Regions from separate parts of the Homo sapiens genome. Here region 2 is linked to region 1. Evidence: fine-mapped expression QTL. Tissue or cell type: skeletal muscle. Region 1 holds a variant in brackets; the other region holds the start of a gene. All regions are shown on one strand. Distances are between the middles of the regions.

What was found. PIP is the estimated chance that this variant, and not a neighbour inherited with it, causes the effect.
Region 2: it holds the start of LARGE1, and the variant in region 1 is fine-mapped to the expression of LARGE1 in skeletal muscle (GTEx, PIP 0.98).

The regions. Positions count from the first base shown.
Region 1 is chr22:33,204,333-33,212,437 of GRCh38, forward strand. It overlaps a transcript of LARGE1 not described here. Among named protein-coding and RNA genes, the nearest start is that of LARGE1-AS2, 44 kb to the left of the region's middle. The variant G/A (reference allele first, on the strand shown) is at 3,761.
Region 2 is chr22:33,916,771-33,924,875 of GRCh38, forward strand. It overlaps LARGE1 (LARGE xylosyl- and glucuronyltransferase 1), which reads right to left and starts at 3,706. Exons shown (of 15, transcript NM_133642.5): 1 at 3,225-3,706. LARGE1-AS1 (LARGE1 antisense RNA 1) reads left to right here and starts at 4,455. Exons shown (of 2, transcript XR_001755630.2): 1 at 4,455-4,753; 2 at 5,637-6,285. RefSeq lists silencers at 3,234-3,333, 3,604-3,753, 4,074-4,573.

The DNA of each region.
Region 1 (8,105 bases):
AGAGAGTCATAAAATGGCTTATTAAAAGGGTTGCAACTCAGATCACTAAAACCATCAGAGAGGATTCCAACTTTGCATTTCACTAAAATGTAAGACTTTTTGCTTGAAAACGTCTCATTTAATGGACTTATCAGCTTCCCAATCTCAATATCTTCAAGACTCCTATAAACCTCCACTCTCCCTGATTCTAGCACCTAATTAATCAAAGTCAAGCACTGTTATCCCAGAAATGTCTCTTAAACACCTTAAGCCACCTCCAAACACTTTCACTTCTCCAAACCTTTGAGCAGAAATGTGCTATTTCCTCTGCTGGGAGTATGTTTGAATCCCTTTTTTAAAAAAGGCTAAATTAGAGGTCTCCCTTATAGACTTAGCTTTGGGAAGAGCCTTTCCCATTTTCACACAGCAAAGGTGGCCATTCCTCAACTGTGTTCCCCTTGTGCTGTGTTCATGCCTTAATTCCAGCATTTTTTTTCAAGCCTCTATTGTAGGAATTACTATAGAAGGGTTCTGTTGAAAGTATCTTAACCTGCTCCCCACTGTCTGAAAGCAACACCAAGGAGGTATACAGCTTCAGTATCTTTGTAGTCTTCCGTTCTAGCACATGGATGAAATATAGCAAAAGAGTGCTCAGAACACATTTATGAAATAAATGAATAAAGAAATGAAAACGAATGGACAAGCATGGAGGACATATTAGGTTGAAAAAAAATAGCTTTACCAGTCTGTGTAGCTCCTGATCACAACAGTATATACTGGTCACACCTTGTCCCATTATTTCCACCCAAAATCATACTCTTTCTTTAAGACCTGTCTCAGATGCTACCCCCTTCAAGCTTCTGTCTGTAATTAATCAACATGCAGCCCTTTGCTTCTGGGCAATGCTCACATGACACTCATCATTTGCTACATTTTATGAGAGATCATGCACTAAAAAAATAAAAAATACCTAAAATAAACTGAGAGACTGCTATGTGCCAGCCACAGGGAAAGTCTCTTTCCAAAGCTGAGTCTCTAAGGTAGACCCCTAATTCAGCTTTTAAAAAGTTCCAGATGCTGAGCACAAAGAGTTGAACAAAATGAAAAAGGTCTCTGTTCTTTTGAAGCTTATATTTCAGTGGATGGAGACAGATAATAAATAGCACATAAACAAATAAATAAAAAGAGAGTTTCAGTGTTTTAAGGACAATAAAACTGGGTAATGTAATAGTGTTTCCCTCAGCATTCTCATTTGTAGCCAGCAGAATTCAGTTTCACTAAAGGAGAATTTATTAAGCAGGATTCCTTCAAAAACTCAACAGAAAGACCAAAGAAACAGGCTCTTGTCAAGTTTCCAGCAAAAAAATTGGACATTTCATCTCTAGCATATGACACATGTGGAGAGTCATTGATTTAGTACTACTCAAGAGGGGAGAAAACATTCATTGAAATCTGATCATATTGTGTGACTTTGTTGTTTTTTTCCGAGACAGAGTCTCGCTGTGATGCCCAGGCTGGAGTGCAATGGCCCGATCTCTGCTCACTGCAGCCTCCACCTCCCAAGTCAAGCAATTCTCCTGCCTCAGCCTCCTGAGCAGCTGGGATTACGGGTGCCCACTACCATGCCATGCTAATTCTTTTTTTTTTTTTTTTTTTTTTGTGAGAGGGAATCTCGCTCTGTTGTCCAGGCTGGAGTGCAGTGGCGCGATCTCTGCTCACTGCAAGCTCCGCCTCCCCGGTTCACGCCATTCTCCTCCCTCAGCCTCCAGAGTAGCTGGGACTACAGGCGCCCGCCACCACACCCGGCTAATTTTTTGTGTATTTTTAGTAGAGACGGGGTTTCACTGCGTTAACCAAGACAGTCTTGATCTCCTGACCTCGTGATCCACCTGCCTTGGCCTCCCAAAGTGCTGGGATTACAGGCGTGAGCCACTGCGCCCGGCCTAACTTTTGTATTTTTAATAGAGACGGGGTTTCACCATGTTGGCCAGGCTGGTCTCGAACCCCTGACCTCAAGTGGTCCACCTGCCTCAGCCTCCCAAAGTGTTGGGATTACAGGCGTGAGCCACCGTGACTGACCAAATTGCATGACTTTTTTTTTCCATTTTGCCATGCAAGTTTTCCCTTCCCTCCTGCCTTACTTACCTACAGATTCAGATTTTTTAAAAGGAGTTTATGCTTTCTATGACTTTTTGCATTAGGGTTGAAACTTTCAGTCACAAGTCGTTTGGGACAGATAACTTACTAAAGGTCTAGAACAAATGACCAGCCACCCAAGGACACATATGCAGGCTGGCATGCCTGCAGCCAGAAAGAAACCATATGGAAAGCATAGCACAGTCCAATAGGTCTCTGCTCCTCCATAGGACAGTCCAATAGGTCTCTGCTCCTCCATAATAACTCTCTTGGAGAAAAGTTGGGTTCTGTGTCTAGTGTGAAACTCTCATAAATAGTTTTTTGAACAATCATGTACTTGGTGGACTACAAGACAAAATGATTTTGTTTTTCTTCTATCAGTCTTCAAACAAATGCTGTTGGCTCCTCCTTTCCTGCTGCTTCATGGCATATTGGGCAGATCCCACAGGTGGTGTTAAAATGTCCAGCCCAGTTAGTCCAGTTTAAAATTTTATTTTTATATTCAATTCAAAGCATTTCCCCTCTCCGGTGCAGAACTGCCTTGCATACTAGGAAGCAGGCCCTTTTGATTCTCCTTCATTATGGGAAATAGACTTGTTGGTGATACTGGAAGCTAGTGCCCCAAAACGGAGCACAGTGAGCCTTAAGCATCCCACTTTGTAAAATGAAAGCATGGTTTTCCTCTTCAGGCTTATTACAATGAGGTAAAGCTAGTACTATGGCCAACACTCATCCATACCCTCTTCAGTCCAAAGAAAAGACTAGAAATTTGAAAAGATTGCCTAAACTAAATTACCATTCCCTTTTCCTCCTAATGCTTTGGAGTTCTCCAAGATCAGGATCTGAAAGCAAGGATTATGGGTAAGTGGCAAAAGCACTTTTACTTCGCAGCTACAGTTGACGCTTCTTCCCTAGCTATTTCAGTGCTTCCAGAGGTCCCTGAGGCTTCTCACTGCATGATTCTCTTATGTGGGAGAACCTTTTTGACTTGACTTCCTCCAAATATCTATTCCCCTTCTGCCCCCAGGTAATACTTTCCAAAATACCTTATTGCTATGGTACTCCTCCCCTGCTGGCCAGATTACTTGCAGGTAGGAGGGAGGAGCACTGGCAAGACAAGCTCGATACTGGCTGACTCTCAGTTTCCACATGGCCCATTGAAAACTCATGATCCTCACCCACCACAGAGTGAGAGCGTCGGCGACCCCATTATAAGCTTCTTTTTCCACCCAGCCATTGCTCTATTTCTTTCTTTTTCCTTTGCTCACACAGATTGAAGATTGGCAAATCCACTGCTCCAACAGATATCCAACAGGGCAAAGGGGATGCCAGGCTACCGTCTTTTAGGCATGTGTGGTCTCTGCAAGTGGTCCTTGCAGAATACTCCCTAGTTTGACTTGGGTGGGGAGCGGGCCCCATTAAGAAGGGAGGGGAGAGGAAAAAATAAAGTTTTTCTCCCCTAAAGGCACAATTACTCCATATTTTCACAAATTCCATTGAGTTTAGGCAATCTTTTCAAATTTCTAGTCTTTTCTTTAGACTGGAGAGGGTATGGATGAGTGTTGGCCATAGGACTAGCTTTACCTCATTGTAATAAGCCTGAAGAGGAAAGCCATGCTTTCATTTTACAAAGTGGGATGCTTAA[G/A]GCTCAATGTTCTCCGTTTCAGGGCACTAGCTTCCAGTATCACCAACACGTCTATTTACCATCTTATTATACCTGTTTAGATGCAGGTGTTCTAGAAAAGAGAGGAATTAGGGTGAGGATTTTAGAATTGGAAGGCCAAGGAAATGAGATCTATGAAAATCGTATAGGCCACATAGAACAGGCTGGAAGATCTCTCTGTGTTTTCTCTTCCAAGAAACTAAGAATATGTCAGTCCCCTTCACCTTGCATGGATGTTTTAGGTTTCAAGCAATCCAAGTCGTCTTCAAAGCTGCTTGGGTTTCTTAGCAATCAACAAGATAAGTACAAGGTAACTATGTCACAAAGATCAAACGTTGTTACTCATTGTAGTCACTGCATTCCAAACTTTCCCAGTGTAGTAGCCATTGGAGGTCTATGAGCATCCTTCTAGAAGAAAGAAGAGTCTCAAATGGACTCTTTACTAACCTTTAAAAACAAGTCACTTTTTTTTTTTATTATACTTTAAGTTCTGGGGTACATGTGCAGAATGTGCAGGTTTGTTACATAGGTATACACGTGCCATGGTGGTTTGCTGCACCCATCAACCTGTCATCTACATTAGGTATTTCTCCTAACGCTATCCCTGCCCTAACCCCCACCACCAGACAGGCCATGGTATGTGATGTTCTCCTCCCTGTGTCCATGTGTTCTCCTTGTTAAACTCCCACTTATGAGTGAGAAAATGTGGTGTTTGGTTTTCTGTTCTTGTGATAGTTCGCTGAGAATGATAGCTTCTAGCTTCATCCATGTCCCTGCAAAAGACATGAACTGATTCTTTTTTATGGCTGCATAGTGTTCCATGGTGTATATGTGCCACACTTTCTTTATCCAGTCTATCATTGATGGGCATTTGGGTTGGTTCAAAGTCTTTGCTATTGTGAATAGTGCTGCAATAAATATACAGGTGCATGTGTTTTTATAATAGAATGATTTATAATCACTTGGGTGTATACCCAGTAATGGGATTGCTGGGTCAAATGGCATTTCTGGTTCTAAATCCTTGAGGAATCACCACACTGTCTTCCACAGTGGTTGACAAAACATCACAAAAGTGCTGTGAACGAAACAAGTCACATTTTAACAACTATGTATTAAGCCCTTTACAGCTTTCATTGCTTAACTTTCTTTCTATAGCTCTTTTCCACCACCTTCACCCTCCAGAACTAACAAATGCAAAGGTAGGAGGTAGCAGATGCGATCTATGGTAATTTTCCTCCAACATTAGAGCTCTTCACAGTGATAGTATATTATGAGACTCACACAGGGTGCCACATAAAATGTATGTTTGTTAGATACCTTTCAAATTAAATTCAGTCACAGGAAAATATGATGTGGTGGGTTCAATTTCCACACTCTGACCCCTGCTCCAAAAAATCCATTGACTTTCCTTTATTCAGTTTTGCTCATAAAAACAAACTTCTAGAGTACATTTCAACTGCAATTCAATTGATAAATATTTGCTCTATGTACAATATCTGGATTCATAATCACAGCCTACAGTAGCAGTTCTCAATCGTTTCTTTTAAATAATAGAGACAGGGTCTCACTCTGTCTCTCAGGCTGGAGTGCCATGGTGTAATCACAGCTCACTGCAGCCTCGACCTCCTGGGCTCAAGTGATCCTCCCACCTCAGCTTCCTGAGGAGCTGGGACTACAGGCGTGCACCACCAGGCCAGCTAATTGTATTTTTATTTTTCTGTAGAGATGGGGTCTGGCTATTTTTTCCGGGCTGGTCTCGAACTCCTGGCCTCAAGGGATCCTCCCACTTCAGCTTCCCAAAGCAATGGTATTACAGGCATGAGCCACCACGCCCGGCTGTGGTTCTTAATCTTAATCTTGGCTCTACATTAAAACTACTGGGGGATTTTTCAAAACTCTCAGTACCCACCCCAATCCTCTACTAATTCACACAGAAGTTCTTGAGGGTGGGACCCAGGCATCAGTTTTTTTAAAGCTTTCCTGGTATGCAGCCAAAGTTGAGAAACACTATTGGAAAGTCATCCAGAGCCGTGTTCTCCAGATCCAGGAGGCTGTCGCTTTCCATTAGCTCCTTCTCAACCTTGGTCCTTGACCCAGGGGTCCCTACCAGCCGCCCTCCCGGCCTCCACAGGCCTTTGGGGCGTGTATCCTTGTCCTCTTTGCCCTCCACAGAGCATGGTCTGGCAGATAGACGGGGGTGGCACAAGGGTGACATCTAGTGGTTTAAAAAATGAAGTTAGCGTCTTAATGGTCCCATTCTCTGAAAAATGGCAAGAGAACGACACCGGCGGAACCTGGTCTGTGTGCCGCCTGGGATTGGCTCAGCCATGGTCTCCTGTCCTCTGCAACTGACGATGCTCTAGGAGCCCTACAGGGCTGAACCTCATTCTTGGAGGCCTCAGAGGGAGGTCCTCCTTGAACTCAGTCTTAGCCTTCATGCTGTTTTGCCTACCCCGCCACCAGGCCCGCTGCTATGGTGGCTGTTCCCTGCCCTTAAGTCACCGGCAGACGTGGCCTGATGGCACCTAGCCTCAAGCCTGACCCACCATGCCATGCAAGCTTCCACCCCTGTTGCCATAGAGAAGCACTGGGCGCTCACACGCACACGGGCTCACCTGGCCTGGTTCCTTGGGCTGCAGGTGAATGGTGGACCTCTCTTCCCTCTCTGGCTCTCCCCTGTTCCCAGGCTGCCCCTATGCTCTGGGCCTCACACCACGGATGCCTCTGCGGCTCCCCCAAAATGTGGGTGAGTCATTGCCCCGGGGCCTTGCATTCATTGGCTCTGGCTGCCGTAACAAGGTACAGGCAGACCTCGTTTTCCCGCACTTTGCTTTATTGAACTTTGAAGATAGTTGTGTTATTTATAAATCGAAGGTTTGTGGCAACCCTGCATTGAGCAAGTCTATCGGTGCTATTTTTCCAACAGCACGTGCTCACTTTGTGTCTCTGTGTCACATTTTGGTAATTCTCAAGTATTTCAAACTTTTTCATTATTATTATATCTGTTACAGTGATCTGCGATTTGTGATTTGTAATTGTTTCGGGGCTCCATGAACCATGTAAGACAGAGAACTTAATCTATAAATGTTCTGACTGGTCATTCCCTCATCTCTCTCCTCCTCATCGGGCCTCCTGAGACACAATAGTATTGAAATAAGGACAATTCATAATGCTACAAGTGTTACACTTAAAAGGCTCTAAGTGTTCCAGTGAAAGGAAGACACACACCTCTCACTTTAAATCAAAAGCTAGAAATGATTACACTTAGTGAGGAAGACATGTTGAAAGTGGAGATAGGCCAAAAGCTAGGCCTCTTGTCCCAAACAGCCTAGCTGTGAACACAAAGGAAAGGTTCTTCAAGGGAATTAAAAGTGCTGTGAGGCTGGGCGTGGTGGCTCAAACCTGTAATCCCAGCACTTTGGGAGGCCGAGGCGATGGATCACCTGAGGTCAGGAGTCCGAGACCAGCCTGGCTAACATGCTGAAATCCCGTCTCTACTAAAAATACAAAAGATTAGCCGGGCGTGGTGGCACACACCTGTAGTCCCAGCTACTCGGGAGGCTGAGGCACGAGAATTGCTTGAACCCCAGAGACGGCGGCTGCAGTGAGCCGAGATCGCGCCACTACACTCCAGCCTGGGCAACAGAGTGAGACTCTGTCTCAAAGAAAAAAAAGTGCTGTGACTCCAGTGAATGCACACATGATAAGAAAGCCAAACAGCCTTATTGCTGATATTGAGAAAGTCTGAGTGATCTGAATAAAGATCAAACCAGCTGTATAACATTCCCTTAAACCAAAGCCTAATCCAGGGCAAGACCCTAACTCTCTTCAATTCTGTGAAGGCTGAGAGAGGTGAGGAAGCTGCAGAAGGAAGTTTGAAGCTAGCAGAGATTGGTTCATGAGGATTAAAGAAAGAAGTTGTCTCCATAACACCAAAAGTGCAAGGTGAAGCAGCAAGTGCTGATGGAGAAGCTGAAGTTATCCAGAAGATCCAGCTAAAATCACGGATGAAGGTGGCTCCACTAAACAACAGATTTTCAAGGTTAAAAAAAAAAAAGCCATCTAGGACTTTCTTAGCTAGAGAGAAGTCAATGCCTGGCTTCAAAGCTTCAAAGGACAGGCTGCCTCTCTTGTGAGGGGCTAATGTAGGTGGTGACTTCAAATAGAAGCCAGTACTCATTTACCATTCCAAAAACTTTAGGGCCCCTAGAATTATGCCATATCTATTCTGTCTGTGCTTTATAAATGGAACAACAAGCCTGGATAACAGCATATCATTTACAGCATGGTTTCCTGAATATTTTAAGCCCAGTGTTGAGAAATATTA
Region 2 (8,105 bases), 710 kb after region 1:
ACCTGGCTTCCATCAAATTCATAAGACTTCATTCATGTCTCAGGATGACAGCATATATTCTCCACAGGATCGGTCTTCAATCGTTGGTGCTCAATGGCAAATGCGATGGTATTTTCCTGTTCCAATCTCTTACCCCTTGGCTGTACTGTGCCCAAGAGAATCAATCTATAAAGTCTTAATGTTAGAAATAAAGCTGTCTGCTGACCATTTTTCCTAGACCACAACAATAGCTCCCCTTCAACTACCTAAATGTGCACTACACGTATGGGTAAAGGGTCACAAATGCCGTCTACCAGACCCCAGAGTTCAAGGGAAAAGTAATAACTCAGGTGGGTTCACAGGTTTCAAACAGAGTCTAACTCTACATGCTGAACTGGGCCTTTTAGAATCCAGTGTGACCAACATCTTGGTGATATCTGCCTGTTTTTGTGACAGTATTCTAAACTAAGCAGGCTCTTCTTGGCCTCTACCTTGCATCTTTCCTGTCTCCCCGCTACTCCCACCTCTGGGATCAGCTTTGATAAGACTTAGCTACTTGGGTAAACCTAGGCAATGGGGCAGTCAGTGTTCTTCAGGGAAGTAGAATTATCTTCCAATTCTGCTGGAAGGGCTGTGGACATTAATGATTTCATACTATTAAAAGTGCAGACAGCGTCTGAGGTGGAAGTGCAACTACACCGTCAAATGTTATGTTAACATCTCTAAGTATACGGAATGTATTTTTAAGGGGAATTTTAAGTTTGATGGAGTCCACTGCAGAGACATTTTGAAGCCATGTGATTTTATGATGACTGCAGGGAATATGCAGTCAAAAACCAAACACCAAAAGTGTTGATTACAAACTGTTAGGGAACTTAAAGTTAGGATGGTCTAATATTCAAAGGATAGAGCCTTTTTGTAGTCCTTAAATACTTAGAGATTATAACTGAGTCTTTTCAGAATGTCACATAACATTTTGCAGTTAACTGGTTCTGAGTTGTCCAAATGACAATTTAGATGTGAGCAGGCCCATCCCTTAGGCACTCAGAATCCACTCACTAGTGCAAGCATGTACTAGATCCCAAAAAGTTCATCTCAGGAACCCTCAAGATAAACCACAGTCTCACGAACCCTCAACATAAACCACAGGCTCATGAACCCTCAAGATAAACCACAGTAACATGGGCCCTGGTGTTTTCTTCTTCGATGGTGGAAAAGATAACTAGTCCCCCCTAGTGTCCTGCTACTGTAGGTGGCTGAAGGATGGCGACACTACAGGACGCACCCTCCCTGCACTGTGCATCAACTTTAAAGCGCAGCTCAGGAACCCAGAAACAAAGGAAACCTTCGTCACAACCTTCCCAAGAGATGGAAGCACTTCCGAGACCTATGATGAGATGAAAAAAACCTTTCATTTCATTTCTAAGGCCCTTCCAGGTATGGTTTAAAAGCCAAAGGAATCTGCATTGGCTCACATCAAAAAGTTAATCCACACCCCAGCACACTTCATTAAGTGAAGCAGGAGGGCCCACACTTGTCAGCAGCTACTGCTCACTCCAGAGCAATCCGATCTTCCCGTTAAAAACCTCTCTCTCCTGCCAGGGGGATTTGATTCCTTTCCTCGCCACTCTTGAAAACCCACTAACCTCTAAATCTTGGTGATTTTTGCCTCTCTGTTCGAGTGAGTTTTCTTCCTGGTATGGAATTAACAGGGACAGGCTCGATAAATGTGTTCTCCACAAGCAATTTTCACTAAAGTACTCTTGAACAATAAAGGTACACTAAGAGATGTGTGAAATCTTAAAGCTGGCGTTTTTATTTCTTTTATTTTTACCCCTAGGGAGGACCAAGCGTGCCAGTGAGTAATTCATTCATGTCACCCATTTGTGAGGGATGGGAGAAGAAACAACCACCACTTGTTCCCTTCTTAATTTAGAAGCTTTCCTTATCTTAAGTCTATCAAAGCTGACTCCTGAGGTGGGAAGACAGGAGAAGTGAGAAGAAAAATTAACCCGAGGTGACTGCCTCCACGGAATGATAAGCACTTCAGGTCTCCACACCTGTGTCAGAGAAGAAAGGCATCTGCATGTCAGGGAGGCGGACGCCCCCACCTGCCACCCCCTCCGTTTCTCCCCTTGAAGGAAGCAGGAGCCTGATCTCCCCCCACTCCCTCCTCTCTCTCTCTCTCTGGGCACTTACATAAGACCCTGTAAAACTTCCAGTGACATTCACGAAAAATGTAAGCTGCTATTTTGCTCCCTCAGGAGATCATTTTAATGGACTGAGTGACAAAATTCACGGATTCTGAATTCAGCAGAAACCTGCTCAACCGAGGCACATCAGCACAGAGACGAAAAAAAAAAAAAAAAAGAGTCCAACCCCATTAAACAGGGTCACCCAAGGGATGGATTCAGTGTGCAAGAGACAATCTGTTCCCTCCGAAGTGACCCATTTAAAATCAGATTGTTCTGGGGGAAGCTCACAGGTTTAATAAATTTCAAACAGGCAAGGACAGGCTTGTACAACTGAGGTTCCTTAAGAGGAACATTTAAAAGAGGATAAGGCAATGAACAAAATAACTTGAGGATACACAAACTTTGGAGTCCTCACTCCAAAACTTCAAAAGCAGTGACATTTACAAGAATGTCTGGATAGCTATACACTGATCACTCCTCACAAGCAGCTTTGACTAACAGGAAGGACATGCTGGCTGGGCTTCCCCCCTACAGATAGCAATGCCAACCAACCACTCTGTCCTAAAGAGGGACTCGCAAGCTGTGGCTGCTCGCCCCCAAATTGCGCAGGACTGTCTGCAAGAAGGAACAAGAAAAGTTATTCACAGCATCACACCACGAAAGGTAGTTGCGTACCGCCCAACAGGGCCCTCTCCAAACACGGCAGGCTCCGCGAACCACAGGTGCTCACCGCTAACAAGAGGGCCGGGGGTGCGGGTATCGGTCACATGCCCTCGTGGTGTTAACCAGAAACTCCTCCTGGCTCGCTCCCTGCCAGCAGCCTGTGTGCCCAGAAGCCGAGCAGGCCCTGAGGGGGTCCTGGGGACTTCGGAGACTGGGGGCTTCCACCTCCAGCCTCTCCAGGGCTCCCGGCCGGGGCAGCAGAGGGTGTGCCCGGCCTCCCCGCCGGCATCCCGAGTACAGGGGGTACCAGCCACAGGTTCGGAGAACTTGTCCGGCGCTACACACCACGGCGCCCCCGCGGCGACTCTCGCGCTCCGGGGCTCTTACCTTGGCCGTGACTGCCGCCAGGCAGAGGGAGACACGGAAGAACAGGGTGGCGCGGCGGCGCCGCCGCCTACGAGGCGCAGGGGGTCCGGGTCAGGGTCCCGGCAGGCGCTGCCCTACTCGGAGCGGCGGTGCCAAGCACAGAGTTCGGGACTGCCCCCGGCTCCAAATGCCGCGGCGAGGGTCCGGGTCCCCCAAGCTGAGCACTGTCCCTTCTTCCTCTTCCTCCGGGGCCGCTGCCTGGAGCTGCTCCCGGCCCGGGGGACTCTTCCGAGCCAGGGGCGCCCCGCATGGGCAGGGGCCTGGGTCAGCCTCGGGTTGGGTCCAGGGAGCGACCGCCGGGGCCGACTCCACCTCCCGCGCTCCAAGCCGATTCGTCCCTTCAGGGCAGGGCCTGCCCGCGAACAGCCCGGCGAGACGAGCGCGGCCGCGCCCCCAGCTTCGGGCGCCCGGGCTCCGGCGCGGCGGCGGGGCAGGAGCAGACTGGCCGGGCCGGGCGCCGAACGCGGCGGCGCGGGGGGGGCTGCAACCGGCCGCGGCGCGCTCTCCCCCAGGGCCTGCGCCGCCCGCCCGCGGCTCCGCGGGAAAGAAGCGCCGGAAAAGGCCTCGCCCCGGCCTGGGGCGCGGGGCCGGGGGCGCGGGGCTAGGGGAGGCGCCCCGGGAAGGTCACGGGAGCGGAGGCGCGGCGAGTGGATCGCGGCGCGGTGGGTGCGGGGAGCCGAGGCGGGCGGCCCCCGCCGCCGGGAGCGCTCGCCGGCCTTGGCCGCCGCCGCCGCCTCCGAGATGCGCCGGCTTCCCGGAGCGCCCGGCGCTCGGAGCTGGGCGGCCGCTGCAGCCGCCGCGGGCAGCCGGGCGCCGCTGGCCGGAGCCGGCGCGCGATCCCCGCCTCCCGCGCCCGGCCAGGAGTGGGCCGCCGCGCGGGAACCGGCAGGGGCGGGCGCTGGGGTCCGGGCTCCGGGCTGGCCCCGCCGCCTCCGCGTGCCCAGAGCGCCGGACTCGCTCAGCAGCTGCAGTGACTGTGTGTCTGTGTCATGTCTGTGCAGCCGGGGGGGACCGCGAGCCGGGGCTGGGTTCCGAGCGGGGGCGGGGCCGGCGCCCGCGTCGGCGCCCGCCCCCGACCCCGTGACCGAGCGGCCGGCCAATGGCAAGCGCCGCAGCCGCGCGGACCGAGAGTTCGCCCCCGCACAGGCTCCGCCCCCCGGCGAGACTCCGCCCCGGTGCTTCTTCAGCTCGCTGGCTGGCAGGCAGGCGGAAGCAACACCCGGAGCCGGGATCCCGGGCCGGGTCGGGATGAAAGGGTGCAAGCTGGGAGCTCCCCGCCCTTCTTCCCCCAACCCCGGCGGCTCCCGGCCGCCTCGGGCTTGGCGTGCCTCGCGGAAAAAGGGGGAAGGGAAGCGGGACGGGCCCGCAGCTGCCGTGGTAGAGAGGCTCGCAGGCTTGCAGGACCATGCAGCCTGCTCCCCAAATTGCACAAAACAGCCGTCGTGAGAAGTAGGAAGTTTCCCCGCCTCGGGTCGCAGCTTCTCTCGGAGGTGGGCATGCTGTGGGGCAGCCGGAGTCTGTGAGGAGCCCCGCCGAAGGGCTCTGACGGCATCTTTCTGGGATCGGTATCCAAGAATCCTGTCCAAGGCTTCCTCTTCCTCTGAGGAAACTACATTTCTTTTTCCTCCACCCCAAACACACACCCCATGCACGCACAACACGCCCCTCCCCTGCTGATTTTATTCTCGCTCTTTCCCTCTTGGCATAAGAACCCGGCGCGCAACATCCCTTGAATGGACTTCCAGCCTCCCAGTTCTAGGGACCAGGGTGGGGGTACGGAGAGTCCTCCCGAGCCACAGGAGAAGTGGGTGAAATGGGTCGGGGCACAGGAGCGGGGGTGTGAGAATGGATGGAAGGAGGATGCCCTCGAGAGAAGACCCAGAGGAGGCGAAAGCAGAGAGGCAGGGAGAGAAAGAGGACGCCGAGAGCTGCACAACTCGGACTCGGAGACCGGAGCTCCGGGCGCGCGATCCAGCTCCCGGGTTTTTCCGCAGCTCGGTCCCAGGGCTTCTGGGGTCCCCTTCCCCCCGGGTCTCCACCTCTCCCCAGCCGGGCGGGCCGCCGGGTCTTTGCCTTCCCTCTGCGCGCCTCTCCGCTCTCCAGGACTCGAGCGAGGCAGCGGGAAGCCCACCCTAGTTCTTGGAAGGGGCAGGGGAAGGATGGGCTGGGGAGGGGGCGCGCGGGAAAGGGCCGCCGAGCTTGGGTTGCCCAGCTGACCCCACTCCTCGAGGTCGGGCTGGGGGGGTGGGGCGGCAAGGGCTTCGGAGGCTTGGCCCCTGCTTGGCTCCGGACCTGGCTCCCGCCTCGGTAACCACACTCTCGGCCTTTGGCTTTACCGAGCTGGGACCCTTCTCCCATCCCCCTTCCCTCCAGCCTCGTGAAACAACGACCCCCACCAGCAGCAGCAGCGCCCGCTTTGCCCCGGCTCCGGAGCGCTGTTTACCTAATCTCAGCGGCTGACCGAGCCCAGCAGAATGCGAAAGGGAGGCAGCGGTGGTACAGCAGCGTCCCCGGCGAAGAAGTAAAAGACGTTTGCTTTGGAGCTTCGGGATAAGTTAACTGCGAAGCTGGGGTCCTGCTGTCTTACCTCTGCGGCGATGAGCCTCACCGTGCACGTTGGCAGGCATAGCAGATTCTGTTTCTGATGCCATTACCGTGTCGGAGAAGAACATTATATGAAAAAATACTATCTAATATCCTAGAGACCATTAAAGTGTCAAAGTTTAATGCCAAGTCTTTTAGCTCGAAGGCTGCTCAGTTCTTCCTCTGACGTGCAGCTCTGTTCCAGAACGCGCTGAAAACAAGGGGATCATTTTTATTTTTTTGCCGCCCGAATGTCCTTCCTTCCTACTCTCTTCCTCCTCTCTCACCCCTACCCCCTCCCCGGAACCGGGTAAAGTTAAAGGGAGAATTTGTACTTTCTTTTTACGTTTTGCTTTGCTTCACTTCATTAGTGGTGTAAAATGCATTATTACAGCACATTAGCATATTAATAAAGGTAACGTGACTGAGGAAAGGAAAAGACCTGAAATTTACAAGCGAAGGAGAAATAGTTGAATAACATCAGAAACTAAAAGATAAGCTTCCGGGAAAGAAACATCTCCATTATAATGACTCAAGTGTAGTACATTCTCTAGATGGAATCTAAGAAAGAAAAATGTGACCATGGTGTGGGAGCTAGCAATGTTCACGCTGGTCAGTAAGGCACGTTGAAGACATAATGCCTTATTAGTGGATTTCACAAAGTGTACTTGCATTGGTCAATAAGCACCTTAAATGTGGAAAAGCTTTGTTTTATCAAATCAAGGTTGCAAGTGCCTGCAGTCAGTGGCATAGCTAATGCTCTAAATGATATTAATGTTGTCAGACTGAAATGTGCCACATACTGAGTCCTCTGGTTAGTACATCAAGCCCCAGGTTTAAAGTATTACGTTGGAAAATTGTAAAGCTCCTCAACTCCCCAGTCCAAGCAACTAAATATGTATATACATATACATGGAAACCCTGAAGTAGGATGTAGTTACCAGGAATTATAGCCTTTTGACACAACCAAGATACAAATGTCTTAAAAGGATTTCCGCTACGATATAGTATGAGAATGCAGAATAAAATATGTAAAGTGATATATCTGTTATTTGTAAAGAATGAGCGCAGCTTTTGCTGAGAACTGAAAAATGAAAAAAAAAAATGAGCTATCTAAACCAACTGTTATCTGTTTATCTCCACACAGTTATTGTACCTGTCACTGAAGAGATTCGGAAAGGTCTCTTATTTTTTATTAGGGTCAAGGAGACCGAATCCTAAGAAACCTGAGGTCTTAAAGCAGCCACTAGGGGGCCCTAAAGGCATCTCAAAGAGGAAGCCAGGAAACACTCTCACCTCCGTTTTTCTGTGTGCCTGATATTAGGAACTGGGGAATCTAAAGGCACGTTAAGAACACAGTGCACTGTAGTCCCAGCACTTTGGGAGGCTGAGGCGGGCGGATCACATGAAGTCAGAAGTTAGAGACCAGCCTGGCCAACATGGCGAAACCCCGACTCTACTAAAAATGGTAAAATGTTCCGGGCGTGTTGGTGGGCGCCTGTAATCCCAGCTACTCAGGAGGCTGAGGCAGGAGAATTGCTTCAACCGGGGAGGCGGAGGTTGCAGTGAGCCGAGATCGCACTCCAGCCTGGGCGACAAAAGCAAAACTCCATCTCAAAACAAACAAACAAAAACATAGTGCAAAGTTTGGAGGCAAATCTAGTTTTATGTAATAAATGACCTGAGTCCAATTTTGACTCCTAAGTCAATTTAGTTTCTCAACTCTTTTCTCACCTCCAAGAAAGGAAATATTGTATCCTTGAGAGGAGGGTTACCAAATACTCTTAACTGTCTCAAAGTCGGCACAATTATGTTTGCCATTCCAAACAGGACGTTCTTTCAAAGATTTGAGGACTGTTTTCTGAATGTTTTGCACATTCTTCAAGAGCTACATAACAAGACGATTGAATTCTCACAAAGAGGATATTTAAAAGATTAAGCAACCTGTACAGCAGGGCACCCACCTGCCAACTTAATTGAAGTCAAGCCAGCCACAGGGGCACTAGCATTAGAGCTGAGTCCTGAAGGCTTCTGCTAGGCCAGACATTTATTCTTTAGTGCTGGGTTCTGGTGAAATGGTGGTGTTGATGTTGGGAGGAAGGAGTGGTTCCTGCAGCAGGGGTGAGGAGACAGGGTATAGTGGGAATGGCAGCCAGTGGTAGTGGAGGGGTGATTACTCCAAGGGCTACTTAGCCAGTATGGAAGGATTGCAGTATCTTAATTAATGTTATATTTATCAAAACATCTAAATGTCGGGTC